Linked DNA regions of Homo sapiens. The protein of the gene in region 5 purifies or fractionates together with the protein of the main gene of each other region. This does not show direct contact. Each region holds a gene or a part of one and is shown on either strand. Other genes may lie near its edges. The genes, in order: PRAG1, MKLN1, TMOD1, ITM2C, ZMYND19, RMND5A and CCDC183.

What was found.
Region 1: the proteins of ZMYND19 (region 5) and PRAG1 purify together in Homo sapiens (co-immunoprecipitation; one large-scale study listed by IntAct). This does not show direct contact.
Region 2: the proteins of ZMYND19 (region 5) and MKLN1 purify together in Homo sapiens (affinity purification with mass spectrometry; 3 studies listed by BioGRID and IntAct, with this or other methods). This does not show direct contact.
Region 3: the proteins of ZMYND19 (region 5) and TMOD1 purify together in Homo sapiens (affinity purification with mass spectrometry; one large-scale study listed by BioGRID and IntAct). This does not show direct contact.
Region 4: the proteins of ZMYND19 (region 5) and ITM2C purify together in Homo sapiens (co-immunoprecipitation; one large-scale study listed by IntAct). This does not show direct contact.
Region 6: the proteins of ZMYND19 (region 5) and RMND5A purify together in Homo sapiens (affinity purification with mass spectrometry; 4 studies listed by BioGRID and IntAct, with this or other methods). This does not show direct contact.
Region 7: the proteins of ZMYND19 (region 5) and CCDC183 purify together in Homo sapiens (affinity purification with mass spectrometry; 3 studies listed by BioGRID and IntAct, with this or other methods). This does not show direct contact.

Annotation. Positions count from the first base shown.
Region 1 is NC_000008.11:8,326,586-8,331,041, forward strand, and holds part of PRAG1 (inactive tyrosine-protein kinase PRAG1), read right to left. Parts: intron 1,877-4,456; coding exon 1,125-1,876; intron 1-1,124. UniProt on the Homo sapiens protein: Catalytically inactive protein kinase that acts as a scaffold protein. Functions as an effector of the small GTPase RND2, which stimulates RhoA activity and inhibits NGF-induced neurite outgrowth.
Region 2 is NC_000007.14:131,445,708-131,450,163, reverse strand, and holds part of MKLN1 (muskelin), read right to left. Parts: intron 4,391-4,456; coding exon 4,261-4,390; intron 1-4,260. UniProt on the Homo sapiens protein: Component of the CTLH E3 ubiquitin-protein ligase complex that selectively accepts ubiquitin from UBE2H and mediates ubiquitination and subsequent proteasomal degradation of the transcription factor HBP1.
Region 3 is NC_000009.12:97,560,037-97,564,492, reverse strand, and holds part of TMOD1 (tropomodulin-1), read right to left. Parts: intron 1,762-4,456; coding exon 1,672-1,761; intron 456-1,671; coding exon 325-455; intron 1-324. UniProt on the Homo sapiens protein: Blocks the elongation and depolymerization of the actin filaments at the pointed end. The Tmod/TM complex contributes to the formation of the short actin protofilament, which in turn defines the geometry of the membrane skeleton.
Region 4 is NC_000002.12:230,874,148-230,877,506, reverse strand, and holds part of ITM2C (integral membrane protein 2C), read right to left. Parts: intron 1,888-3,359; coding exon 1,699-1,887; intron 651-1,698; coding exon 540-650; intron 108-539; coding exon 1-107. UniProt on the Homo sapiens protein: Negative regulator of amyloid-beta peptide production. May inhibit the processing of APP by blocking its access to alpha- and beta-secretase.
Region 5 is NC_000009.12:137,583,910-137,587,831, forward strand, and holds part of ZMYND19 (zinc finger MYND domain-containing protein 19), read right to left. Parts: intron 3,915-3,922; coding exon 3,808-3,914; intron 3,199-3,807; coding exon 3,058-3,198; intron 1-3,057. UniProt on the Homo sapiens protein: May be involved as a regulatory molecule in GPR24/MCH-R1 signaling.
Region 6 is NC_000002.12:86,726,791-86,731,246, reverse strand, and holds part of RMND5A (E3 ubiquitin-protein transferase RMND5A), read right to left. Parts: intron 1-4,456.
Region 7 is NC_000009.12:136,798,719-136,803,174, reverse strand, and holds part of CCDC183 (coiled-coil domain-containing protein 183), read right to left. Parts: intron 4,074-4,456; coding exon 3,952-4,073; intron 3,463-3,951; coding exon 3,385-3,462; intron 3,174-3,384; coding exon 3,006-3,173; intron 2,787-3,005; coding exon 2,682-2,786; intron 512-2,681; coding exon 389-511; intron 1-388.

The DNA.
Region 1 (4,456 bases), on a different chromosome or scaffold from region 5:
TGCAGATGGCTCAACTAGCTCACACAGAGCTGCACTCTGACAGTGCAATACAGTGTGGGTAGCAAGAGGCCTGATCCAGCATCAAAGGTTAAAGAGCTGTGCTGCCTTGAGCTAGTCACTTAATGTCTCTGAACTTCATTTATCTTAAATGGTAGGGACATAACTTAGGCTTTGGAGACAGACACAGAAGAGCTCAAATCCATTCCAGCCACCAACTAGCTATGGGCAAATTACTTAACCACTTTGAGCCTCAGATCCTCCATCTGTAAAACCTACCTAACCTGTAGGATTACTGTTAGGATTAGAGGTAAGAGTCTAGTTGTAGAGTGAATGCTCACACAAATGATATTATTACTATTATTGTTCAAGATGATTCCTAGGTCGAATGCTCCTTCTGGATCTAACATTAGAAGAATGACCTCATTATCCATCTCCCTCACTACATCATAGCTCTATAAGGAAGCTTATATTCACACCTACATACTCAGATTGTGGCAAAGTACCTGGCCTATAGTAGACACTCAATAAAAACCTGGTCAATAAATGAATAAACTCTCCGTTGCACTAAAAGGCAACTGTTTTCTTAACTCAGCTAAAGCACAGAATGTGTCTTATATTCATACTACAAATCTCATTGCACCATGTCCTGGGGCAGAGAGAGAGTGAAGCTGCTGAGCACTAAGTGTTAAAAGAATGCTTAGGGGTCAGGGGTGGTGGCTCACACCTGTAATCCCAGCATTTTGGGAGGCCGAGGTGGGTGGATCATCTGAGGTCAGGAGTTCAAGACCAGCCGGGCCAATATGGCAAAACCCCATTTCTACTAAAAATACAAAAATTAGCTGGGTACCGTGGTGCACACAGATAATCCCAGCTACTCAGGAGGATGAGGCAGGAGAATCGCTTTAAAATGGGAGGCGGAGGCTGTAGTGAGCCAAGATTGTGCCACTGCACTCCAGCCTGGGCAACAAAGTGAGACTCTTATCTTACAAGAAAAAAAAGAATGCTTAGGAATCAACTCCCCTCCTAATGCCCAGACAGGTGAAATGACTTGCTCAGGCCACAGTTCTGCCCAAGCCAGCACCAGCCAGTGGCACAGCAGAATGCAAGGAGGGAGTGGTACCTACTTTCACAGCATAGGTGCTGCCGGGGTCCTCAGAGCAGGTGGCACAGTAATAAATGGCATCCCCCGAGTCACAGCAGGGCTTGTTACAAGTCAGCTTGAAGAGCGACCAGTTATTCTCATTGAAGTGGAGCTCCTTTTTCTGGCCGCCCATGAAGAGGTCCTCACATTTGGCTACAAGGCGGGCCAGGGACTGGGTGTAGAGTCCCCCCAGCTTGGCATAGGTGCCCTCCTTGCTGCTGATGTTGCTCAGGAGACCGTGCAGCTGAAGCTGGGTGCTCCCGGTGGAGGCTTGACTGGACACGCTCAGCTGGGAGGATGAGGCGGAGGGGGCCCCTTTGCACTGGAGGCCAGGGCTCCCGCAGCCGCCTCTGTTGCCCGCCAGCCCTGCTGCCGGAAGCCAGTGGCCACTGCCTTTGAAAGCTTTCTCCAGAGGATCGGAAGAGGAGAAGACAGGATGGTGGCGGTTCCCGGGGCTCAACGAATAGCTAAAGTGAGATTCGTCGTGGACGTTGGTTTCCGAGTGGCTTAGGTTCAGCTTGGGGCTTGCTGTTCCGGGCTTGGGGGAGCCTTGGGTCCAGAAGAAGCCATCCGGTGAAGAGGCTGCCCGGCTCACTATCTTTTTCTGGGGGAGTGGAGGGGGCTGCTGGGGGCCACTGGGGGACACGTCCTCAGTGGAGCCTGAAGGAAACGGAACGGGAGCAAAGAGCTTCTTCCCGCTGTTGGTGGGCGAGTGAGCCAGCTCAGACGAGGGACCTGAAGAGGAGAGACAGAAACCATAAGACCAAGGCCAGTGCCACTCAATTCCAGGGTCCTGCAGACTTGTTTCCCTTTATTTATTTATTTATTTGGTCAGAGCAATTAATTTTATGTTACTTCTTTTCTATTTCTCTAATAGACAATATATGCACAATGGAAAAAATCAAAATGCAGAAAAGGTATAGATTGACAACTAAGTCTTCCTCCTACCCTGTCCCTCATACTCAGCTCTCTCATCAGAGGAAACCACTGTCAGTAGTGTTTCATGCATCCCTCCAACAATCCAAACAAATGCGTGCCTGCACGCGTGCGCACACACACACACACACACACACAAATTACATAGAAAAGAGCAAACGGTGGCTACTGTTTGGAATAATGCTTTTCTTTCACATCTTGGAGAGATTTTTAAATCAAATATGCAGATCTATTTAATTATTTTAAACAGTCTCACCATAATATATCACCATATGCAAGTATCATAATTTAACCATCCCTTTTTGATGGACACTTAAATTGTTTCCAATATTTTGCAAACAATGCTGCAACAGCAATAACAAACTCGAACATGTGTGGTTTCCGTGGAATTTTTTAAAAGTCAGGTTTATAGAGGGTGTAACTGGCCAATGGTAAAATTCTCCCTTTTGGCTGGGTGCGGCGGCTCATGCTTGTAATCCCAGCACTTTGGGAGGCTGAGGTGGACGGATCACTTGAGCTCAGGAGTTTGAGACCAGCCTGGCCAACATGGTGAAATCCCGTATCTACTAAAAATACAAAAATTAGCTGGGGGTGGTGGTGCGTGCCTATAATCCCAGCGACTAAGGAGTCTGAGGCAGGAGAATCGCTTGAGCCCGGGAGATGGAGGTTGTAGTGAGCCAAGATTGCGCCACTACACTCAGCCTGGGTGGCAGAGTGAAACTTCATCTAATAATAATAATAATAATGGGTTGCAGCCCTAAGGAAATGTGTACTTAGGATGTGTGCCCCTCATTGAGTTCTCCATGCCACATCACCCTAAGGGAAGAGCATGGAGTGTCTCTATGCCTTTCCACACCTTGGCAGTAGGACCAGAAAACAACAAAAAAAAGCAGAACAAAAGCATAGGAGAAGACAAGGGGTAGAAGGCCCCAAAGGAAGCAAATTATGAGTCTTGTGTCACCTCACTCAGGTGCACAGGACATTTCTAGGGCTGCTCCTGAACAGTTAATAACCTTCTAGCTCACACTGAGCCCTTCTCTGCTTTCTCCAACCCAAGAGGGAACAGAATAGATCCCTGAGGCTCAAACACCAGTTGCAAGCCACATAGATCAAGACTGGGTCTCTTTATTTCTGCTGCTCCACAGGGAGGAGGGTCTCTCTAGGGAGCAAGATGGATGGCCATGGGCTGACATTCATGCCCCAGCCTCAGTGACCGAGGCAGCATTAGTGAGCGACAGCAGGGCACAACCTTGAATGCAACGCTGACGGGAGGACAAACTCAGTGCATGCAACCTGTTGAACACAGGAGCTGAGAACCAATGGATTCATGCAAAGAAAAGCCCTGGGGAGCTGAGCAAGACTATGGGGTCCTTGCACCAATATCCTCCTTGGCTCTATCATCTATCATAAGACTCAACAGGGGCTGGGCACGGTGGCTTATGCCTGTAATCTCAGCACTTTGGGAGGCCAAGGCGGGAGGATCACTTGAGCTCAGGAGTTCAAGACCAGCCTGGGCAAAATGGCGAACCCCCAACTCTACAAAAGATACAAAAATTAGCTGGGCGTGGTGGTGCATGCCTATAATCCCAGCTACTCAGGAGGCTGAGGGGAGAGGATCACTTGAACCTAGGAGTCAGAAATTGCAGTGAGCCGAGACTGTGCCACCGCACTCCCACCTGGGCTATAGAGTGAGACTGTCACAAGTGAAAATGAAATTCAAGAGGGAGCACCGTGTTTCTTAAGCTCTCCTTGCCCACTTTCCCATCTGTAGTAAGCAATCCTTGTTTCCCTGTGGTTTATCAAGATCATAGGGAGTTGCCCTTCCCATTTGCTAATGATAGGCGGGGCCCCTGGCAGCAAGGCTGAGTGAGTGATTTATACCCCTTCCAGGAGGGCTCAAGTTAATAATAAATCAAGCAGTGGTGGTGCAGTCTGGACCAGTCACTTTTACATGCCCACGAATTTCCCCCTCAATAGTCAGAATGAAGGGCGCAGAAGAAATAGCGAGCCAGAAGAGGGAAGATCTAGATGGCAGTGATCTCAGCAGGTGCTGAAATCCTGCAGTCCACAGGTCTCCCCATCCCACGCTCCCCAGGAAAGCAATGGGGACAGACGGAGGCTAGGGCAGATGATTCACTTCCTCTCCCTCCTCCCTCTAACAGAAGAGGCTGAGAGCAGGAGGAGGATCAGTTGCCACCTCCTGGATAAAAAAAGGAGGGTAAGACCACCTACTTATGAGGCTCTCAAAGGACTGTAAGCCTCAGTCACCAAACTCCCAGCCTGATGAGCAGGAGGACTGGGAGCCGTGAGCACACATCCACTTCCTGACCTTTCTGCATTCTGGGCAGCAGAAACCGTCACCAGCGAGGCGTCTGATTC
Region 2 (4,456 bases), on a different chromosome or scaffold from region 5:
ACATAGGGAGAGGAAGTCTAGAGACAGAGGCCAAATAGGTGATGTTAGCCCAAACTAGTTCATAGTGAAGCAGCAATGGGAATAGAGAGAAGATGAGGCAAAATTGGCATGACTTGATGTTAACTGGCTAGATTAGTGAACCTGAGGGTAGCAGTATTAACATCCTCTTGTGAAAATTAAGGCACCCAACAGTAACACCAGTCGAAACTAGAGGGTTAACCCATCTCTACTCCTAGGGTAGCCATGGACAGAGACGCTATTTTCCTTAAAATCTAATTTGGGTCATTTACAAATGTGGAAGCAAAAGCTGAGACATTAGGTAACTTGCTTAAGGTTAACTAAGGACTGAAATAGACTCCGGAGAGCTAGAACAGTGGTTCTCAATCCCAGCCGCATATTAGAATCCTCTAGGAGAGAGAAAGTTGGGGGAGGAGTAAAAGGGACATGGGAAAAAGAATGGGAAGGAGGGAAAAGGAAGAAAGTGAGAGAGGCAGAGATGAGGGGAAAAAAAAACAGAAAAAAAGAGAATAATTTCCATTTCACTCTAATGTGCTAACAGAGTCACTGAGGTTCCTCAATTCCAAGTATAACTGCAACAGTTTTAGGTGGGAAATTTTTCCAAGTAATTCTAACCAGATGCTCAACCCTGCCATAAAAATCCTCAGTAAACAAGCCTTTGAACAATGCAACTCACAGGAACATTGTCAAAATTAACCACTTGGAAAATATACACCTAGACAAAGAAGTGGTATTGTTAAAACTTAGATCAAGACACTGATATTAAACCTTTGAATAATCTATTTTATTCAGAAAAAAAATCCAAACTCCTTGCATTTGTAACAAGGCACTAAATACTCTGACTCTTATCTCCGTAGCTCTAACCTAGTTTCATACCAACTTTTCCAATCCTCAATACGTACCAGTCCCACTATTTCTGAACATCCCAGGTTCCTTCCTGCTTTGGGAACTCTGTACTTGTTCTTCTCTCAGTTCTTCACATGGTTCTTCCTAATTCTCTACTTTTCATCTTAAATCTTAAAGATTACCTCCTCAAAGATGGTTTCCCAACCTACTCTGTTTAAATGAGACTTCCCTTGTTATTCATTATCACGGCATCCAGTGTATTTTATTCACAGTACTTAGAACACAACTGCAGGTCTCTCTCCACTAGAATGTGAGTCCTCTAAGGGAAAGGATCTTATCCTCCAGGTCCATAGATGAATCCCAAGTGCCTAAAATAATCTTGGGCCTACAGAAGACAATGAACTAAGTGGGGAGGGAAGGAGGAAGGGAGAGGGACAAACTTAGATGCTAGTAGATGGTCAACAAATATTATTAATGAATTTATTTGCATTGTGGGAAAATTCAATTGTGTAAACCAATTACACACTGAACACACACAGTAAAAAATGGTGATTTTGATTTTAGAAAAATTGATTATAGCAGTAATCAAACAATGAATCCATTTGTCTTTTCTAATAACATCTCCAGTTCACATTAATAAAACCACAATAATGGAAAAAATCCCACAATTTAATGTAAATTTTAAAATAGAATACAAACTTGTATCAACTTTTATACAATAAATAAGTTTTAAAAAGACTAGACAGAAATATATCAAAATTTTAACAAGTTATCTCTGGACAGTTTGACATATTTTCTTTTTTGCATCTTATTTTTCAAATTCTCTACAATGAGCATATTTTTACTTTTATGACCACAACAAAATTAAATAAAAAGAATAATTGCCACACTGCTCTAAAGCTAGCCATAACCATGATTGAAGAATAATTGTCGATACTGTACATTACTACATAATTTTAACTCATTAAAAAATTGTTTTGAATGACAGTCATTAAAGCCTACTTGTCATGGTGAATTTTTATTTTACTAGTTCTCTGTCACTATCACGCATTGCCACTTTTTTTTCTTTTTTGAGACAGAGTCTCGCTCTGTCGCCCAGGGTGGAGTGCAGTGGCGTGATATCGGCTCACTGCAAGCTCCACCTCCCGGGTTCACGCCATTCTCCTGCCTCAGCCTCCCGAGTAGCTGGGACTACAGGCGCCCGCCACCACGCCCAGCTAATTTTTTGTATTTTTAGTATAGATGGGGTTTCACCACGTTAGCCAGGATGGTCTCGATCTCCTGACCTCGTGATCCACCTGTCTTGGCCTCCCAAACTGCTGGGATTACAGGTGTAAGCCACCTCACGTGGCCGCCACTTTTTTCTTTTAATCTTGGGCAGTAGTTTAGCATGGCAGAAACACCTTCCTTGCACTCAAACTTCTAAATCCCAGCTCTGTCATTACGTAGTTGTGTAACTGTTTTCATCTTGTACATTAGAATAATACCACCAATTAAAGATATTCTGGTATATGGTAGGGTCTAAATAAAGAGTAGTAATTATTATCCATGGGAATACATTACCTACTAGCTAGATTATAAGCACTTTGAGAGACTGTGATTGCCTTGTATCCACTGTGTCCGTAGTCTAGCACTGAGTCAGCATGCCATAATTTTCAACATATTGTCATATCAATTACTATCTTCACTACCTTTTTCAGGGAGACCCATCTTAGGATTGTAGAAGGAGTATTACCTCTCTCCTGCTATTTTATTTTTATTTTATAGAGATGAGGGCTAACTATGCTGCCCAGGCTAGTCTCAAACTCCTGGGCTCAAGCAGTCCTCTCACCTTAGCCTCCCAAAGTGCTGGGATTAAAGACATGAGCCACTGCGCCTGACCCTCCTAGTTATTTTAATGGTAAGTTAGAATAACTCTTAAAAGCCAGAGAAAGTCAAATATTAAATCATATAGCTCTACACTCTCCTATGGCAACAGTAAATAAATGAGTAAATAAGACAATTTTAGATAGGGTAAATAATGTTATTACCTATTCAGGTCCATATTTCTAAATCACATGCTAAGCTGCTATTTTAGACATTACCTACTAATTTCCTGTTGTAATAGACGAAGATGTTTACTACACTTACACTATCTTCCCACTATATTTCATCCCAATTTTTGGTTAAACTGGCTGTAGTTCTGCATTATGATTAGGGAAATACTGCTTACTGTAAAGCCAAGAAATTTACTGTGATAATGTCTCCTTTTTTATAAAAAGTTTCGCTTTTCCTGTTGTGTCCCTATCCTTCGTTTTTTACATTAGATGCTATTTATACTCATCAACAGATTTTTCTTCCAAATGCTTAACATATCTATTGAGTCTACTTTTATCTGGAAACCTCCTTTTTGTAGAGACAGGGTCTTGCTTTGTTGCTCAGGCTGGTCCTAAACTCCTAGATTCAAGCAATCCTCCCATGTCCGTCTCTGGACTAGCTGGAATTACAGGCATATGCGACTGTGCCTTGCCTATCTTTTGTTTTTTTGTTTGTTTGTTTTAAAACAAGTTTTTCTTCTTAAATGTGAACAAATATTTTAATTTAAAAATATTTTTGTTGTTTTTGTTTTAAAGGAAGCTTGTATTAATCAATAAAATATCCAGAAACAATGTCTGTGAAACAAGTGCTTTTATCCACATTTGGCAAAAGAGCCAATAATAAAAACACCAATCTATAAGCAACAGCTAAAAAGAAAAGCAGCTGATTTAATTTCTCACTCTATTGTTCAAATTAGCATTTTAAACCATTGCACCTTAATTAAAGCCACTCTTTTAGGTACAATAATCACAGGCAAAGCAACTACTATGTAGGGTAACTATAAATGATCAAAACAGGACACTTTTGAAAATGAATGGAGCACTATTAATAATTATGCCAGGGCAATATGCATAATCTAAGCAAACCAGCCATTCCACTACTAATAACCTCCTAGATGCTGAGCTTTTAAACTTACAAGGTGTTACCAATCCCATGAAGTTCCCCCCTTAAGACACACACCCTACTATGCTAGTGCCTAATATAAAGATCACTACAGTGAAAATAGAAGATGAAAAAAATTAGCAAACACAGAATAAAAAGTTTTTAAGATATTGATTCTTCCTACCCCGCCCCCCAACAAGCACACACACAATTCATTTAGAAATTCACATATTTTCTGCTTGAAGGAAATAGTAATTCCCATATTTAAAAATAGATAGAACTGAATAAGCTGGTAGAATTTTCTTTCTCTTACTTGGAATTACTCAATTAAAGAAATAAAGAAAGGGTGAAAAATGATTAGAAAGAAAAGAGAATGAACTGCAGTTTTCTACCTAAAGTAGTTAAGACATGAGAGAAGAAATCACTCAATGCCCTTACCCATCCCAGAGTCTTTCTTGGTGCCATCTGATATTATGTCTACATGATCAGAGTCCACATCATAACTAAAGAAATCATTCAAATAGGTCTTTGATCGCTGGCCACCAAATACATATAAGCAACGATTTTTCTGAAAAAGAAGAAAAAAAAAAAGAAAGGAGTAACTTATCACTTCCATGAAGAACTCAGAATGATC
Region 3 (4,456 bases), about 40 Mb from region 5:
ATTTTATCTCGGAGAATCTCTCAGTGTTTTGAATAACGTGGCAGGTTTCCAGATCAAAGCTGGGTTGGCCCGTGCTAAACATCTGGGCCTGATATCATCCTCAGAAAGAAACCAGGACTGCCAGATGCACTTGTTTACACTGCCCACCCCTCTTAAAGGCTCCCATTTGCAAAGGTTTTGTCCCTATTCCCAATGCAGAAACACCCAGAATCCAAACAGGACCCTGTTTACTCTGCACAACCAACCCTGGACCGTTTGCATTTGGGTGACATGGTTCCCCCTCCCCCAGCCACACACAGGTAAAGTGAAATAAATGGACCTTACCCGGATATTATTGAGGTTAACTTCTTCAAGTTTTGGGTCGTTGTTCTTTATCCGTTCCAGCGTTTCCTCTACGTCTGTTGAATTTGGTTCTTCGTCGGGCACAGGCTTGTATTGTGTGGGTTTAATCACGCCTAGAGTGACCGATGAAAGGGAGGTGGCTCACAGAAACAAGGGGCTCACTTTCTGCCAACACAAAGATACTGTGGAAGGGAGCATGTGCAGGGTTGGGGCACGTGAGGGCTGCACATCACAGGGGCTGGGTGGGGGTAGGGGGCACCACTCAGAAGAAGCCCCGCAAGGGAGCCAGGAGGCTGGGGTTCTACTTGGACTCTGCCTTTGACGTCCTGCAAGAACTGGGTGAATTACTTAAACTCTCTGAACCTTGGGTCTACATCTGTAAGGCAGGGCTAGTCATTTTCCCGGGGCTCATGACCTCAGTGGACTCTTGGGAGGCTAAGATGAAGCCCGGATGGGAAAGAAATGCATCAATCTTCCAGAGGGAGGAATAATTATTTTTTTTGGCAGCCTCATTTCTGTTTGGGGCCAAAATGCCAGCTTTGGAACAATGCAGTGGAGTAATTAAGGCAATGCAATATTGGCACAGGAAAGGACAAAAGGGCTCATGAAACAGAGGAGGCACCTAGAAACAGATCCATGTGGATGATAAAGGCAGGCCCCAAACTAGTGGGGAAAGGATAAATCTTGCAAGGAATGGTGTTGGGACCACTGGATATTAATTCGAAAAAATGAAAGTTTGGTCTCATCCCACAGCACACACAAACATGAACTCCAGGTAGATTAAGAAGTTGAATATAAGGCCAGGTGTGGTGGCTCATGCCTGTAATCCCAGCACTTTGGGAGGCTGAGGCAGGAGGATTGCTTGAGTCCAGGAGTTCGAGACCAGTCTGGGCAATGGTGTGACCTCATCTCCATACAAAATAAACAAAATTAGCCAGGCATGCTGGCATACACCTGTAGCCTCAGCTACTCAGGAGGCAGAGGTGGGAGGATCGCTTAAGCCCAGGAGGTCCAGGCTGCAGTGTGTCAAGATTGTGCCAATGCACTCCAGCCTGGCTGACAGAGCAAGACCCTGTCTAAAAAAAGAAAAAGTTGAATATAAAAAGTAAATCTCTAAAACTTTTAGAAGAAAATATAGGAGAACATTTCTATAATACTGGGATAGAGAAGGCCTTTGTAAACAAGACACAAATCCCAGGAGACTCAAAGGAAAGGATGAACAGATTTGGCTATATAACATGTTAAAACTTCTGCAATGAGCCAGAGAACATCAGTGAGTGGAGGAAGCAAGAAGCATGAGGTCCCTCCTGGGGGCGGGCGCATACTCACTGTTGAGCCCCTCCTTGTTCATGATGGAGCTGCTGCTCAGGGCCTGGTAGTACTGCTGGTTACTCATGAGCGTGTGCATGCCCAGGATCGCTGCAGGGACAAGGGAAGGGCTCATGATGTGCCTCTGCAGACAGAAGAGCCTCCTAGGGACCCACACTCCAAACCCCGGGAACTCTGGCTCACAGAAATGGCAAGAAACACTTGCATGAAAACTTCAAAATTTTATTTTACTTTTACTCTCACCTCTATTGATGTGACTCTGAAATCCCCAGCCCCAGCCCAGGCTGCTCTGCCCCTGGCCTCTGATTCCCTGATGTCCTGCTGGCACATCCAGCTCAACGTGGCCAAACCAGAATGGCTCTTTCCAGTGACAGCCTCTTTCTTTGGAAGGCTCTCTTTCCATCTTGTCATCCTGCCTGTCCCTCAGGGTAAAACATCAGGGAATGTGGCACCTTCTCCCCATAAGCCCATTTGACCATCCCAGTGTCTCTGAGATCTGTCCCCCTCCCATCCCATCATCTCCATCCTAATGGAGGCCTGATCATTCTTTGGCTGTATTGTCACAGCTGTGTCATCACGGGTGTCTTGGTCTTGGCCTCTTCCTTCCCTCTACCTCCCAGCATGCAGCACAAAGCAGCTGGAAAGCTCTTTCTGGAAATGCCAACCTGATCTTATTGCTCCCGTGCTCAGCCATTCTTTCATCCATTCATTTGTTCAACATGTAATGAGGCCCACCCCAGCACTGTGTGCTAGGCTCTGGTGGGGACAGTGGAGAATAAGAAAGACTGGGTCTCCGCTCATGGAGCTGAAAGTGTGCTGGGGGAGAGAGGAGCCAAGCAAGTTCCCACACAATGAAAAACCAGCACAGGGTATGCTGAGTGTGGTAGAGGAAAAAGTTCAGTCCTAAGACAGCATAAAAGAGGAACTTGGGATGCAAAGGAGGAGTAAGTGTTGGTCAAGTTAAGAGAAGGGCTATAGAACATTACAGGCAGAGGAATGCAGGTGGGAAAGCCTCGAGGTTCAGAGAGTGGCAGGCCAGTGAGGGAGGAAGGTCAGGTTGGCATTTCAGGAAAGACCTTTCCAGCTGCTCTGTGCTGCATGTTGGGAGGTGGAGAGTAGGAAGAGGCCAAGGCCAGGACACCAGTGATGACACAGCTGTGACAATCACTGCTGGGGGAAACAGGATAGAAGCTGGATGTGTGGCGGTAATAATCAGACGCATGGCAACACCACCCCTCTCACTGAGCACATGCTCTGGGCCAGGGAAGACACTTTGTATCCATCATTCCCAATTTGGCTGCACACTGGAATCACCTGGGGATCTGTTGAAATTCCTGATGCCCAGTCCCACCCTAGACCAATTAACCCAAAATATCTGGGGGTGGAGCTCAGGCACCTGCATTTTTAAAGCTCCCTGGATGGTTTCAATGAGCAGCCAAGGTTGAGAACCATTGCCTGACACTCCCCTCCTTGATCTGCCCAATAACCCTCTGGAGTAGATTTTATTCACCTAGGCAAGGTCAGATTCTACAGGGTCTTCTAGGCTGAGTAAGGAGTTCGGGTGTCTTTTCCTAGGAACAGCCTGGGAAGCCATTAGAGGCTTGAGCAGGAAGTGAGATGGTCTGACCTGAGTTCTGATTATTGTGTTGAGAACTCACTACAGAGGGGAGAGATGGATGTGGCTGCAGAGCTGTGAGGCTGTTGCAGCTGTCCAGATGGGAGGACAGTGGCTTGTACAGCCAAATCCAAACCCAGAGCCTGGCTTCACAGGCCTTCCCTGGGCTGGCCCCACCTCACCAGTGTTGTTGCACTCCCCCTCCCAACAGCTTCTCTGCTCCAGCTACACAAACAGCCCCTGCTCATAGCTGCTCCTGCTTTTGCTAGTACTCTCCCTTCTGCTGGTGATTCTCTGCACCCACTTGACTTGGAATTTTAGATAAACAACAAATTTTTTTTTTTGAGATGGAGTCTCGCTCTGTTGCCCAGGCTGGAGTGCAGTGGCGAGATCTCGGCTCACAGTAAACTCCACCTCCCAGATTTAAGGAATTCTCTGCCTCAGCCTCCCGAGTAGCTGGGATTACAGGAGTGTCATCCTGTAATTTTTGTATTTTTTATATATACAATATATAAATACTTTATATATATATATATACAATACAAAAAATATTGTATTTTTTGTCGTCCGGCTAATTTTTGTATTTTTAGTAAAGACAGGGTTTCACCAACTTGGCCAGGTTGGTCTTGAACTCCTGACTTCTTGATCCACCACCTTGACCTCCCAAAGTGCTGGGATTGCAGGCGTGAGCCACCTCGCCCGGCCAACACCAGATTTTTTTTTAGCTAAGTACGCCCCATTCAATATTGGGACATATTTGTTGTTCTCTGAAATTTGAATTCAATTGATCATACTGTATTTTATCTAACAACTCTATGGCCCTATCCTTCAAGACTAGGAGTAACTCTTCCTCCTCCAGGGAGTCTTCCTGGATTCCTCCTCTCCCTTTCTAATTCTCCCACAGCACCTGGTGTATGCCTCAGAATCTATGTGGTGTTAGACATATCTAGATACACGTCTGCTTCTGCTACTAGACTGTAGGCTTCTGGAGGTCAGAGAAGGATATTTTCTCTTCCACCTCTCCCTGAATACGGTATTTAGCAAATATTTGGTGGTGATTTTTTAAAAAATATCCAAGTCACTTGATTAGATATGGTTTCCTGTTAGAGAGACAATATGGGAGCCCTTAATGAAGAGTCAGGAAACCCAAGTTCCAGCCCTGACCATGCC
Region 4 (3,359 bases), on a different chromosome or scaffold from region 5:
TTGCACAGGTGGTAGATGAAGGACCCCAGGGCCTCCTTGTCACTGACATGCTCCGTGACCACCATCTCCTCCTGGATGATGTACGTCTGCGGCAGGTAGGTCCCCCTCTGCAAAACAAGGTGGCCGCCACAGTGAGTCGGCCCCTCAGGCTTTCGTCCAACCCCTCGCCCGAAATGCCAGCCCACCTCCCTCCTCCAGAGGCCCCTGGGCTGGCCCTTCTGATGTCCTCAGGCACTTCCTGCCTGTGCCCGGTGCCTGCACCTGTGCTGCCAGGAGCAATGGCATGCGCACGAGTCCGTACCCAGGGTACAACCTTGAACACTAAGGAAGCCGGTCTCGGGGCATTGACTCTGGAGATGTGGAAGCAGGGGGATAGCAGAGGCGAGACCAATCTGGGTACAGGGCCCAGGTGCCAGCAATGTCTCTTGCTCCCCCAACCCCTGACACAGGAACTTCCTGTACCTCAGACCTAGCCTCCATGAGACAGGGGGCAAGGGAGGGACAGGATGCTGCAGACATCCCCCCAACCCCCTGCGCACCTTCACGTTCATGAGGAGCTCCCAGAAGTTGCGAGGGGGCAGCACAATGGTGGTGTTGAGTTCGATGACATAGCACTTGTCCAGGGAGATATCATGGTACGCAGTCAGACCCTGGCAGGAGAAGGGGTTGGGTCAGTCTCTGCAGGAGGTGACAGCTGACCCAGGCAGGGCTGCAAGAAGCTTTGGCCAGCCAGGCGCGGTGGCTCATGCCTGTAATCCCAGCACTTTGGGAGGCTGAGGCGGGCGGATCAAAGGTCAGGAGATCGAGACCATCCTGACTAACATGGTGAAACCCCGTCTCTACTAAAAATACAAAAAATTTGCCAGGCGTGGTGGTGGGCACCTGTAGTCCCAGCTACTCGGGGGGCTGAGGCGGGAGAATGGTGTGAACCCAGGAGGCGGAGCTTGCAGTGAGCCGAGATCGTGCCACTGCACTCCAGCCTGGGCGACAGAGCGAGACTCTGTCTCCAAAAAAAAAAGCAGCTTGGCCAGCAGGGGCAGGAGTCCCACCATGCCTTCCTGGGACCCTGGGCCTTCAGGAGCAGAGTCCTCTCCAGACTCCTCAATACCTGGGCGGGCACTCCCTTTTCCTGGTCTTCTCTTAGCCTGTTGTAGAAGGTGCCACATGATAGAGGAAAATAGCAGCTGATTGCTAAACGCCTCTGTTGTTATAAAGCTTCTTCTCATGTTTACAGAGCTGAGGTTTGGGGAACATGGTAACATCCCAGCTGTGCATTTATGAAACCTGTGAGGGCCAGCCATTCCTGGGACAGCCTGGACCCCAGCGAGAGATGCCCTGTCTCAGGACCCATGGGGGTTACATGAATACGCATGAGACCCACTCTGCAGAGACCCGCTGAGCTGTACACGCAATGCACTCGATGGTGAATGTACTACCCCTCGATACAACGCACTGGCCCTGCCATGACAGCCAGCGTGCAGCTGGCAGGAGGCTGAGGAGAAAATCAGCCTCGGCTGCTTCATACTCAGCAAGAACCATTGTTGCTAACAGGAGAAAAGCAGTGTCTTGAAGACCCTGGTAAGCCTAACCGTAGACACCTGCTGTACTCCGAGGAGTCTCCTTTCATCCCTGCTCCCCTTGCCCTGAGTCCCCGGGACACCCTCCCACCCCCCACCCCCAGGCCCTGGCCAGCCTCACCCGCTGGAAGTCATGGATGATGTCTGCAGGGTCACCGCCGCCAAACTGGGGCACAGGCACGTTGATGCGCTCGTAGTTCTCGTCGAGGTAGATTTTCACATCCTCTTCCAGCTCCATCTGAGTCCGGACCTGGGAGGACAGGGAGTCCTCATACAGCACACCACAGCGGAAGAAGTTATCTCGGGCCAGCTGAGCAAGGCGGAGAGACAGACAGACAGTCAGAGAGGCTGGTCATACACGCACTCCGTAAGGCCCCCTCTTGCCTACCCGTCCGCTACATGCCCCAAAAGCCTGCGGAAGCAAGAAGAGCAGGGACTGTGAGACCCATTTCGCAGATGGAGAAACTGAGACGGTGGGGCATCAGGTCAGGGTCTGGGGCTGCCAGTGAGGAGATGAGCTGATTCTTGGGCAAGGCGCTTCCCAGCTTCACAAACGGAAGGGAGGATGAGCTGGGTCTGCCAGGTTCTAGGTGGCAGACCTCTCTGGGCCTCAGTTTCCCCATCAGTAAAGCATGATGATCCCTAAGGTCCCTTCTGGCCTCCAAGTCCTTGAGTCGGTGACTGGGAAAAGGGGTGGCCCAGCAGGACTAGGACCTGGCCACCTCCGTGCCCTCCACAGAGGTGCAGACACCAGAGAAAGAGCCTGGGGTTGGCAGGGGGTCAAGGACGAACCTAAGAGTTGGGCACCTACGCCTGTGCACGACTGCCTTTCCTGTCACCTGCTGTCCTGGCCTGCAGACCTGGAGGGGCCTAACACGGCGGGTGGGGAGGTGGAGCTGGAGGCAACACTGTTAAGAGTCTTGTGCCCCTATCACGGTTACCTCCACATCCAGCCTCGGACAAGTGCCATCGCCCTTCCTGGATATCCCTGACCCCTGTCTTGGAGAAACCTTGACAGACACTGTGTCTGGTGGGCCAGTCCAGTCACTCCATCAGTAAGGGAGGCCAGGCAGCCTGGTGTGATCCCATCAACTGAATGGCCGGGCGGGCCAGTCTGCCCACTCTTACTTCTGGAGGGGGCTCCTGGAGGGGCCTGTAGATACATGCTTGGGACTGCCTGGCCTGGGATCGGCAGGATTCCACCGTCTGTTTGATTCAGTGCAAGTTCTCCAGGGAGGATGCGTCATCGCAGCATGGGGGGCTCCTGTGGGCTGTGCGGGGATGAGAGCCCAGGGAAGGTGAGGCTCCGGGGCTGCATCCCACAGTGGCTGGACACCCCGAATACTGTCCCAGGGCACAGACCCAGGGGCTGCTGGGAGGTGTCCACACAACGAATTGGGGTGTGGGGAGAAGGGTGTGAGTCGAGGGTGGAACAGAGGGGACCAGGAAATGCTGGCCCAGGTCCTAGGGTAGGGCCACAACAGGAAGAGGCCTGTGGGAAGGTCCCACACAGGACCCTGGAACGAGGGGGACGCAGGCCATGGAGGGAGTGGGGCGGGGCAGGGGGATGCTGCACAGAAAGGAAGGTGATGGGTGTATGTGAGCTGAGCTTTCAAGGGGAAAGCCCCGTGAATGCAAACTCTTCAGCAATTTCCATCGTGGAAAAACTGGGGGACAACAAAGTTAAACGCTTAGGAGTGGGAGGTCACTTGGGTCATAAATGACTGGCAAGTCCCACCTCTTTGTCACCCTGAGGTTCTCTGTGAGTTGTACGTAGGTTTA
Region 5 (3,922 bases):
GAAAGCAAAGCAATAGCCCAGGCCTGACAAAGACAGGGTGACCCCACCACAAAGAGCCGGACCACAGGGAGGCCACAGACTGGGATCCAGACGGACGCACAGCACCCAGCCAGTCAACAAAGACAGGGTGACCCCACCACAAAGAGCTGGATCACAGGAGGCCACAGACCAGGATCCAGACGGACACACAGCACCCAGCCAGACAGGATGTCAGGCCCACACTGGCCAGCTCTGACTTCTGCTCGGGGCCTGGGGTGCTGACCCAGCACAAGAGGCCCAACACCTGCTGGGTTCTAAAACCCCATGTTGGCAAACCAAAGATGGCTGAGCCTGATCAGTCCTGAGCCACCCCAGGCCCACCTCCTGTAGCAGGGGGTTGTGTAAGGCAGCAGCCCCAGCGCAACTCGTCCTGCTGTGCCCTCAGAGAATGGGCATCCTGCCGTGCCCACAGAGAATGGGCTGACCAGGAGCATCAGCCCAACACCCCCTTTCCAAACGGCTGTTCTTAACGGCAGTTATCTCCTCTCCTGATTATAAAGGGTGCTGAGAGGATTCAAGGTAACATTCAGTCACAGGCTGGCCGGACCCTGAGTCTTGTTGAGAACCGGCTGAAATGACCCGCACCATGGCAGGGACAGAAGGCATTGCCAGGTGGAGTGGTGAGCAGCGGGCGAACTTGCGGAGTTGGGAAGGGCCCATCCCAGCATCAACACTGAGCATGTATCAATGTGGGACAACGCAGGAGGAGATGCTACAGATGCTGCTCTGCCTGCCAAGCACGCCTTCCCCTTCCCCTTCCCTTTTCATGTAGAAAAGTGATTCTAAGCAAGCTAACTACAGTTCATCCCAGGGCTTCCCCAGACACCACTAGAACAGGGTGCCTGCTTCAGTCCGCAAGTGCTAGGTAGTGCCCATGCCGCCTCCCAGAGAGGAGCCGGGAGTGGGGGCGCAGAGCTGGAGGCAGCAGCATCCCTGGCTCTCCACATTTCAGTCAGGATACCAAAATGTACCCTATTTTTGTTTCAGCCAAATTGACCTTTGTTTCTGTTTCTTGCAACCCAAAGTTCCAACTAACATAATCCCCGAAAGAATAAAAACCCCATTCAACAATCGTAAGAGGCCTGGCTTCACTCACAAGCAGTATGAGGAAGGTCAAAACTCTAATATTAGAGCAAGGACCGGGCGTGGTGGTGCACACCCGTAATCCCAGCTACTCAAGAGGCTGAAGCGGGGCCAGGCGTGGTGGCTCACGCCTGTAATCCCAGCACTTTGGGAGGCTGAGGCAGGCGGATCACCTGAGGTCAGGAGTTCAAGACCAGCCTGGCCAACATGGCAAAATCCCACCTCTACTAAAAATACAAAAATTAGCCAGGCGTGGTGGTGGGCACCTGTAACCCCAGCTACTAGGAAGACTGGGGCAGAATTGCTTGAACTGGGCAGGCAGAAGCTACAGCGAGCCAAGGTCGCGCTACTCCAGCCTAGGCAACAGAGCCAGACTCCGTCTCAAAAAAAAAAAAAAAAAAAAATGCTGAGGCAAGAGGATTCCCTGAAGCCAGGAGTTCAAGAACAGCCTGGGCAACATAGTGAGACCCATCCGTAAAATTAATTAATTTAATGAAATAAACAGAGCAGGGAAAAAAAAACACCAGCCCAACAAGAACGAAAGACACTTCAGGCTCTGCCTTCGTCCTGAGAGGCCCAGTGAGGAAGGGATGGGGGGGGATTTGTAGGACTCCCTCCAGGGTGGCAGGAACAGCAGTTTGGGAGTGGCATTTTGGAGGCCTGGGGACTGTCCCCACATCACCAACCAGTGTGTCAGGTGCTCCCACTGTTTCCACCTCGGCTGCCCAGGGCTCTGGCATGACTCTGAGGTGACAACTGCAAAGATTCTACCCACAGCCACCAACCATCACCAAGCCCGAAACACTAAACCTTACCAGCGTTGCTGACAACCATCTGCTAGGGCAGTTCGCACTGCCTGCACCAGGAAAGGCTGCCCAGAGGCTTGAGGACGTGCCCAAAAGCCCCAGGGCGCCAGGGGAACATGTCAGTGAAGCGTGTGTGGCTGGGGACTCCCTGGCTCAACTGGGCTCCCAACCCCTATCCTGCTGGTCCCTTGGCTCTTCCCAAGGGCTCCATGAAGTTCACAGACTGGCTGGTTCTAGGGCCAGCAGGAACCGCCCTCCCAGGTGGGAAGCCCATGCAAAGCACTGCTTTCAGGATCACAGGCAGGTCGGGGGCCGAGGGCTGAGCCCTGAACCATTCTCCGCTTTAAACCTTTGCTTAAGGAAAACTGTTTAGCAAAAGAACACAACAAAAAGACCCATCTGTGTGCACAGAAAAGAATCCTGAGGTGAGGAGAGAAGGAAGGAATCCTGAGGTGAGCAGAGAAGGAAGGAATCCTGAGGTGAGCAGAGAAGGAAGGAATCCTGAGGTGAGCAGAGAAGGAAGGAATCCTGAGGTGAGCAGAGAAGGAAGGAATCCTGAGGTGAGGAGAGAAGGAAGGAATCCTGACGTGAGCAGAGAAGGAAGGAATCCCGAGGTGAGGAGAGAAGGAAGGAATCCCGAGGTGAGAGAAGGAAGGAATCCCGAGGTGAGAGAAGGAAGGAATCCTGAGGTGAGAGAAGGAAGGAATCCTGAGGTGAGAGAAGGAAGGAATCCTGAGGTGAGCAGAGAAGGAAGGAATCCTGAGGTGAGGAGAGAAGGCTGATGCCTCCCAGGGGTGTGGGGCAGAAGCCCTGCTCACACCGAGTCCCGACGCTGGCCCTGCCCTGGAGCAGGCAGCCCTTCTCCCCACTGTCATGCCAGCTAAAGGGAGGTTCCCAGAGCCAATTATAAGAGGAGCAATGCAAAAACACACACCATCAAGATCCTTCCCGCTCCCATGAAGAAAAGGAGGATTCCACGCTTTGGGGAAAAACAATGAAATTCCCAAAATACACAGAAGCATCAGGGCTCAGAGGAGGAACAGGAGACCCTCTTGGAAACAAGAGCTTTGGCGGTGGCCCTCCTCAAAAGGCGCCTCTGCTGGCATCGCCAGGCCCTGAGAAGACCCACCTCTGCTTGCTGGAGGTCTCTTCAGCCTTGGGCCGCCAGCCCCACGGCACCAGTTGCAGGTTGTCCAGGCGATTGTCCACGGTCACAGCGTTGAGGTGCACCACCTGGAAGCCCGGGGCCACGCCCCCCCGGTGCCGCTCCCTAGAAACAGACAGCAAACCCTGCATCTAACCCTGCATCGCTGCCTCCCACCCTCACAGACATTTCTGGTCAGGTACCAAAGTCCTTCCAGGAAGAAATGTCAGCCATGTGATCTGATCGGGCCCCTGGTCCTTTGGATGAGGGTACCTCAGGCGGAAGCTGCTGAGAGAAACCCAAGCACCTGATCTGTGGCCCAAACAGGACAGGGACACAGGGAGGACCCGGCCCCTGGACTTCAGAGCACAGACAGCCAAAGCTGGAACGCAAAACCACCTAAGCAGATGGCCTCGAGACAGCTCCCCATCTGAGTGGTCCCTACCATGCACACCGGGGGGGCTCGGCAAAACCCAGCAAGGGGAGCAACCACCGTCCCTCCAGAGGCTGCCGGTCCTGGGCAAGCTCCCAGCAGAAAGTCCACTTGGTGTTTGAAGTGCAACATACAAATCATTCGTTCCTTTGGGTTAGTGGTGAAGGACACAAAAATAACTGCGAGATTCAGGGAAGGCAAGGCAGGGCTTCAGCGGGGCAGGGGGCTCCAGGCGCCCTGTGCCATCGGAGCTCACCCAGGAGCCCAGTGGCGGGGGGCAGAGACAGCTTGGAAACACCCACCACAGCAGCTCATGAAGGAGTCTCCCAGAGCCCCTTCCTCGGTTCTTGTCAAAGGCATAGGCAAATATCTTAGCACCATTTCCATCTGCATCCACTTCCATTCGGGCCTGAGAAG
Region 6 (4,456 bases), on a different chromosome or scaffold from region 5:
ATAAGGGACTATTTCATTTTGTCTGTAGTAAAATAAACTGCGGCCCATTGAAATTTGGGATTCTTGTGAGCTACTTCAGCACCTAGGACACAGCGGCTGCTTAGAGGAAAGAGAAAAGGCACAAATAGAACACATTCATTTTTTTCTGGAGGAGGTAAACACTGAAAACAAAATTTTTCCAGTATATTAGTAGCTGGTAAATCTGCAAAGTAAAAGAAAGTATGGTATTTGGTGTTCAACTCCTGACCTTTCAGAGAACAGTAGACTGACAGACACGTGTTCTGATCCAGAGAGATTATTAAAGACTGTGCATCAAATTAGAGGCACAGTGTGCTGCAAACCAAACATGAGGGGAAAAAAACGAAATAAAGTTAATATTTAGAGTGAAATTACATGGTACAGACTAATAGTGCTCCTGGAGCAAAGAACAGTATCAATGACTATCATAGAGAAGACAGGAAAGGCTTCAAAGTATATGAGGCAAGAATTGCAGAGAGAAGAAAAAAGATACAGGCACAAGATTTTAAACATATGTCTGTGACAGTCACATTTTAGAGAACCTATTCACTCCCTTCAAATTCCAAATATAAAGACTTAATCTCTAGGCATCTCATTTATCTCTGAAATGAATGGTGGAACCACATTAGGTTTCCTGTAGCATTGGAATCTGGATTTCATATTTAAAAATCAAACTCAGGCCAGGTGCAGTGGCTCACGCCTATAATCCCAGCACTCTGGGAGGCCGAGGTGGGTGGATCATTTGAGTTCAGGAGTTCAAGACCAGCCTGGCCAACATGGTGAAACCCCATCTCTACTAAAACTACAAAAATTAGCCAGGCGGTAGTGGCGCATGCCTGTAATCCCAGCTATTCAGGAGGCTGAGGCAGAAGAAACACTTGAACCCAGGAGGCAGAGATTGTGGTAAGCCGAGACACTGCAATCCAGTCTGGGCAACAGAATGAGACCCCCCCTCCCCCACCCCCCAAAAAAACAAAAACAAAAACAAAAAAAAATCAAACTCAGATTTCCACCTTCCCCTCTCCTAAACTTCCTATTTTCTACCTGGTTCCATAATGATCTACCCATCATTCATGTTTAAAACCTTGGATTAACCTTTGGTTTTTCCTGCCCTTTTCTCCTACTCTGCCAGACTCCATCTGTGCACCAACTCCTGGTCATTCCTTCCCTCAGAAATCCCTTTCATGTGTCCCTTTAAATTTCTACCACCAGTACCCAAAGACAGGTCCCTATTTCATCAAATCTAGGTTGACACTTAGCCTTAGCTAACGTTCTTGCCTCTAGTCAAACCTCACTCCCAACTCCAAACCAACCTAAATACTGCTGACAACTGGTCTCTGATCGTGTCCCTGTCCCCTCCCTATTCAAAATGTCCCCACCCCACCCCAAAGTAATTCAATATCTTCCCAGTCTACTACTTTCCCTGGTATCCATGGCTTTACAAAACCTGATTCCAATTTAATTTTAATGCTCTTATCGCCTTTCCCCTGCAATCTGGTCCTTCACCTCTCACTCCTCTACACCTTTGTTCTTGCCATCCTCCCCTCCAGGCACTCCATCTGCTCTTTCTGCTATCCATATTCAATCTCTGCTACTAAAACTTCCCATAGGTAAAAAGAGTCTCTCCTTGTCTCAAATCCCACCCCTTTTTGTCCACACCACTCATGTAGCATCTAGCCTAGATACATAACCGTGCATTACAGGGCACTGCTTTTGTTTGTGTGTTTGTTAAAAAATGCCAGTCTCATCTCCCTAACTGGACACAAAGTTCTTAGAGGATGAAAATGCTTGTTCTTTGTAACTCCTAGAAGATTTTGCTTAGTTCTACCTATAAATGGTGATTAATAACTACTGATGAGGTGATCTAAAGTTCAGTTGAAATAATGCCCATCTACTCCCATGCAGTTCTTTCTAAGGGCTCTCTCTCTTCACTGGTGTCTGTACTCACCAGAAGCACTGTTATACACTGTGTGCCGTGGTCTTGTTTTTTCCCCCTTTCAAATATGAGTCTGGTCTCTCCAACTAACTTCTAAGTTCCTTAAAGACTCTTTCTTATACCTTTTAAGCATTCTTTACAATGTTAAGCAGACCACTGGACACAGAGTGGTATTTAACATAAACCAGTAATAAAGACACCTAAATATTACCCAAAATGTCTCAATTAAACAGTGCTTGGGCCCGGCGTGGTGGCTCACGCCTATAATCCTAGCACTTTGGGAGGCCAAGGCGGGCAGATTACGAGGTCAAGAGATCGAGACCATCCTGGCCAACATGGTAAAATCTCGTCTCTACTAAAATACAAAAAAAAAATAGTCAGGCCTGGTGGCATGCGCCTGTAATCGCAGCTACTCGGGGGCTGAGGCAGGGGAATCGCTTGAACTTGGGAGGCAGAGGTTGCAGTGAGCCAAGATCATGCCACTGCACTCCAGCCTGGGTGACAGAGCGAGACTCAGCCTCAAAAAAAAAAAAGCTTAACACCACTTAAGGCACAGACTTTATAAATAACACGTCTACCCTGTTTTACAAATTTCAAAGCCAGTTCACGTCTATTATTTATTTCACTCTCATAACTCTGTGATGTCAGTTTACTGAAGGAAAAACTGGCTAAGCAAGATTGTAGGATCAGGCCGGGCGTGGTGGCTCATGCCTGTAATCCCAGCACTTTGGGAGGCTGAGACGGGTGGATTACTTGAGCCCAGGAGTTCAAGATCCGCCTAGCCAACATAGTGAAACTCCGTCACTACTAAAAATACAAAAATTAGCCATGCATTGTGCACACCTGTAATCCCAGCTACTTGGGAGCACAAGAATCGCTTGAACCCTGGAGGCAGAGGTTGCAGTGAGCTGAGATCACACACCACTGCACTCCAGCCTAGGTGACAGAGTGAGACTCTGTCTCCAAAAAAAAAAAAAAAGATTGTAGAACCAGTAAATTGGCAGTGCAAGGATTCAAACCCAGACCTCCTGGGCCCAGGGTCAAAATTTTAGGTACTATTCCACAAATACAGATTCATCTTCTCAATTAGCCTCCAAGTTCCTGGAGGACCAGGGCCATGAATAATGTTTCTTTTAAAAGATTCTCTCCTCATCTCCTCCCAAATGTCTTCATGTATCAATAAGATGAATTAAACCTATATGAATTCTGCAGATACAACAAACTCATCATAAATAACACACAGCCTGACACTACATTGTGCCCCCATAACAGACGAAATCACCATCCAGGCCTCCATCTTAAGTGGAGAAAGACTTGGTAATATAAGCCTATGGCCTCTCCAAGCGACATTCCCAAACAACCATTTTGAGCTCAGCCACACAATCACCACACCCATATAAGGTGAAAGCATACTGTATTTCTCAAAATCCTCGAGTCCTGCCAGACAGTCTAGTCTTTGTTCTCTGAAGGGTTGAGTTAACATCTAATCTAAAGAGAATGGCCAGAAGTGTCTGCTACTCTCAGAGCTTTCAAGGAAACGTCCAGTTAGAGAGCATCATCTCCTGGAAGTACCACGGGTCTCCAAGTACACATAGCTCAGAGCCAGGGCCCTCCACAATTTTCTCCCTAAACTGCATTTTTGGATCATTTTTAAAGATTTTGGAAGCCTTACAGATGAAGAAGCAGGGCCCTAAATAAAAATAAGTTAGTTTTAATATTCCAAGTGAACAGTTTGCTAAAACACCATTTTCATCATCCTAAAGACTAAGAGACTAAGACATGAAAACAACAGAAACTTCTCTATTAGCTCTAGTATGACAGTATCACAGAAGTGTTGGCAAGTTTCTCCTTACCAATGTTATTATCCAGAGTTAGAAACTACTTTAGAAATAAAATAACTTTAGGAAAATTACTTTACTATGTCAAGCATTAAAGTAATTTCAAAAAAGTTCTAGAGGAACATGAACCAAGTTGTATTCTCTAGTCTATAGATTAAGTCATACTAACAACTCACTACTTGAATTATATGAGCATTATAGTTAGGAGGCCAGGCAAAAGCTGAGAAGGCGAGGCTAGTCAGGAAAACATCTCAGAGAATGTTACTGATATAACATGTAGCTGTTGCACTGTAATAGACATATATTACTCTGTCTGGGTTTAAGTGTTCCTTTCTAGAACTGTCTCTTTACCTGATGAACAGTGTATTATAAGGCCATATACCTCCTGAGGGGGTGAGCACAGCTCAAGGTGGCCAGAAGACCTCACTCCCTGGTCCCAGTTACTGATTCAGGGAAAGGATCCATAACGGAATAATAAAGGTACTCCCTGGAGTATCTCCAACAAAATGGCCATGTTCCTGTCTTTTGAGCTCCATTGGTCATCTCTACCCCATGTGAAGAAAACTACCCTGAAAATAAAGCCAACAGTTGACAGAAGAGAACAAGATCAGTCCTGATGACATGCCTGGTGCCCCTGGAGCCAGCCTAGCCCTAACCTCAGCCT
Region 7 (4,456 bases), 790 kb from region 5:
CCAAGAGGGCTGGCCCTGGGGGGCCCCAGCCCTGGGCCCTGAGCTCACCTTGACCCCATCCGAAGATCCAAGAGGGCTGGCCCTGGGGGGCCCCCGGCCCTGGGCCCTGAGCTCACCTTGACCCCATCCGAAGATCCAAGAGGGCTGGCCCTGGGGGGCCCCCAGCCCTGGGCCCTGAGCTCACCTTGACCCCATCCGAAGATCCAAGAGGGCTGGCCCTGGGGGGCCCCCGGCCCTGGGCCCTGAGCTCACCTTGACCCCATCCGAAGATCCAAGAGGGCTGGCCCTGGGGGGCCCCCAGCCCTGGGCCCTGAGCTCACCTTGACCCCATCCGAAGATCCAAGAGGGCTGGCCCTGGGGGGCCCCCAGCCCTGGGCCCTGAGCTCACCTTGACCTCATCCGTGATCATCATGGCATCTTGGGACATGATCTTCATATCCGACAGCTCTGAGCAGTAGTTGACCACGAGGTTCTGCAGCTTGTCCAGCTCAATGGGGTATCCTGCCAGCACCTGTGTTGAATGGGGTTCTCTTGTGGCCCCTACAGAGTGGGCTGCAGTTGCCCCGAGCTTTTATCCCCCGACTAAGAGCCCTGAGAACAGTGATAGGTTCTCCTCTGTGGCCCCAGCCACCTCCCCCACTCCCCGCTGGGCACAACGGTGATGAAAGGTGTTTCACAGGGAGTGGACAGTGCTGGCCTGGTGGACTCTTTCACCACCTAGGGTCCAACAACCCAGAGAGACTGAGAGAGTTTGTGATGAAATGCTCTGCAGAAAAGGCTGACTGAAACCCGGGGAGGTTTGGGGACAGTTCTGCTTTGAAGTGAAACAGAGGGGCTCAAGACATGGGCTTGGGGTCAGAGAGTCAGGATTCAAGGCCAAGGCAGCTTCTGACCAGCTAGTTTAGCTGTGTGACATTGGGAAAGTTACTTAATCTCTCTGTGTCCCCATTTGTAAGATGATGGCTCGTTCAGAAGGTTGCCATCAGGATGAATTGAGTGTAAAAGGAATTATTTAGCCCAGAACCAGGTACATACGTGCTCAGGATAGCTTTGCTATAGTGGTTTGTTTTTTGTAACTACAAGTATAGGCCAGGTGCGGTGGCTCACGCCTGTAATCCCAACACTGGGAGGCCGGAGGCAGGCAGATCATGAGGTCAGGAGTTAGAGACCAGCCTGGCCAACATAGTGAAACCCTGTCTCTACTAAAAATACAAAAAAAATCAGCCGGGCGTGGTAGTGGGCGCCTGTAATTCTAGCTATTCGGGAGGCTGAGGCAGGAGAATCGCTTGAACCCGGGAGGCGGAGGTTGCAGTGAGCCGAGATCTCACCACTGCACACCAGCTGGGGCAACAGTGTGAAACTCCATCTCAAAAAACAAAACAAACAAAAACAAAACTAGAAGTGTAGAATCTTCATTTTTAAAAATATGGATGACTATGGGAATTATTGCTTGTTTTTTCCTTTGTTCTGAGACTGAATCTCACTCTATCACCCAGGCTGGAGTGCGATGGTACGATCTCGGCTTGCAGCAACCTCTGCCTTCTGGGTTCAGGTGATTCTCGTGCCTCAGCCTCCCGAGTAGCTGGGATTACAGGCATGCACCACCATGCCAGGCTACTTTTTGTATTTTTAGTAGAGATGAAGTTTCACCATGTTGGCCAGGCTGGTCTAGAACTCCTGACCTCAAGTGATCCGCCTGCCTTGGCCTCCCAAAGTGCTGGGATTACAGGCATGAGCCACCATGCCCAGGCCGGGAATAATTGTTTTTTAAGTGTGTATGTTCTAAACAGAAGAAGGCGCTACCAGAGGAACAGAAAGCACCCAGGCGAAGGAGGGGCATGGACAGGGGTGGGGAGAGGGGTGGGCCCAGGAAGCATAGAGGGGCAGGGCTTCCAGGTGAGCCAATAGGACCAGGGGCCAAGGCAAGAGGGACAAGCAGAGGACGGTGCTGAGAGCCACCTGGGCTGGGACCACAGCAGGAAAAGAGCTGCGATGCAGCCTCCGTCCACCACTCCTCCTAAACTGCACTTCCATGCTGTCACCTTCCCGAAGCATGGCTCTCCAGAGCTCCCCTTTGCCCAGTCTTAGGGTGAGGGTGTTTCCAGCTGGCTCCCCGCCCCATCCACAGGTTGCTCCTCTTAGCACCTCCTGTGCTCTCCCTATCTACAGCCCATCTGGAGTAGGTTCTGCTTTGTGGCAGCCCGAGGGGCGGTGCTCAGCCTCCCATGAAGGGGGTCTTCCCTCACAATCGGACTGCTGGCTGCCTTTGGCCTCGTCTGCAGGGAGCAGGGCGGGTGGGCTGGCTGGGACGGCAGCAAGCCCTGCTTACAGGCCCAGCGGACCCTCAAAGGTGCAAGGACTTTCTGAGGGTGCAGGACCTGTCTGACTCTCAGAGGCCCAGGCAATGAGAAAATGACAGGCAAGATACAAACAATACCAAATCATTTAATACGTGCAAGAAAGTCCGAAGAATTCTGATATACCCCACGATATGCTTTTTTGGAATAGCCAAAAATGAAGTTTAAAAAAACGTTTTCCACATGCCTCGGCGTCCTGCGTAGCCGGTGGTCAGGCAGAGCTCCCTCTCCCTGGCGGGTGCGGGGCGGCTCCGCCCCAGGACGCTCCCGCCCCTCCCAGATCCCAGCCCCTGACCCCCGCCCTTCCCGGGCCGCTGGGCTCACTGTCTTCAGATAATCCAGCAGGTCCAAATACAGCAGGTGGATGTTCTGGCTGGTGATGATCTTGATCATTGTCTTCTCGATGTTGTTCTCCAGCTGGCGGATGATCTGGGGCGGACCGAGGGCGCAGTGAGAGGGCGTGGGGACCGGCCGCCCGGAGGGTGTCGGGGCTGGGTTTTCTCCGGAGAGGGTCGTGCTCTCTTAGCCCCGCCCCTCCCGTGAGCCCTCCCCAGGGGACCCGCAAGTCCCGCCCCCCGGTGGCCCCGCCCCTCCCGTGAGTCTTGCCCCAGTGGACTCCGCCCCGCCCTCCCAGCCCCGCCTCTCCACCTGCAGCAGCCGCAGCTCCTCCTTGCTGGCGTCGGGCTGGCTCCGCAGGCTGTCCAGCTCCAGCTGCATGCTCTCCAGCTTCTGCCCGCGCCGCCGCACCAGGTGGATCAGTAGGTTGTGCATGTTCACGCGGTCGAAGACGTACTTGCGCAGCTTCTCCCGCACCACCTGGGTCGGGAAGGGCACCGCCCACTCGTGGTTGCGTAGGGGGCCGCCATGGAGCCCGCCAGCAGGCGGGCGGGTGGAGGCTCGTGGCAACCCCACAGGGAACCTGGGGCTGGGCACCTGCTCCGTCCCTCGTCGGCTCCGCAACATCTAGTGGGGGGGTGCTGGCAGGGGTGGGGAGGGTTGGGTCTCGAGGCCCCTCCTGCCTGGTTACCTCCATGGTGCTGCGGCAGTGCGCCAGTCGCAAAGGCAAGTTTTTCCCGCAGGCCTTGGAGATGGTCCACTGGTCATACTGCGGAGCGGCGGCGGCTGAGCTAGAGCGGGCCCTTTGCGCACCCGCAGCCGCTGGCTCCTCCAGGCATTCTCCCCAGGGCCTCTTGTATCCCACGCTAGCCCAGTAGCGAGATCCCTGCTTCCACGAGGAGCAGAGAGCCGCGGGACCCCATCCTGGCCATCCAAGTTCGGAGGCGACGTGGTAGGGGGGTATGCAGAGGAGGGCCTGGGTGTCCCCTAGCTGGCCGGAGAGCCAGAGGGGGCCCCTGCTGCAGGATGTGGGCTCACAGATGCCAAGCCCTCGGGTTGGGTGGTGGGAAACCTGCCCACCGGATGCTGGGGTGACTGGAGCCCAGGGCACAGGTCCTAGCAGAGCCCCTCCTCACATGCCCCCTGGATCCAGAAAGATTGGGGTGGGGGTGGAGAGGAGGTGCCCGCCCTCCGAGTGTGTGTGTACTCAGCTCCTGCCCTGCTCGCCAGGCAGAGGGGAGGGGCGGCGTTTGTGTACCTTCTTGGCCAAAGCCCAGTCCTGGGCCCCGCGGCGGATGTTGCTGCGCAGGAGGGCCAGCGTGGCCTTGTTCTGGTCCATATTCTCTTTCACCCCTTGGATCTGGAGTGCCCGACACTGCTCTGTGGGCAGGTGGAGGGGACACAGTGGCTAGGATTGGGCCAAGGGCCTGGCCTGGAATCCCCTGGGGGAGGCTTGCATCAGGGAGGCCCCAGGCCCCAGGGTCCAGGGGGATGCCCCCTCCATGGCCAAGATCCCTCCTCCCGCCCTGTCCTGGGGGACACCGCTCCACTGCCCAGCAGCAGCTGTCTGAAGGGCTCTCAGTGGACAGGTGCGGGGAGGTGGACAGGTGGGGAGGGTGAGGCAAAGGAGAGGGATGGCAGGGTCCTGTGGTCCCGTCCAGATTTGCTGCCCATGGAAGCAGGTGGGTGTTTTCCTGTCCATTCTGGCTTTGGGGCCCGTGTTGCTCTTATGCTCACGTCTCCTTGAAGCCCCTCTCTCTGAT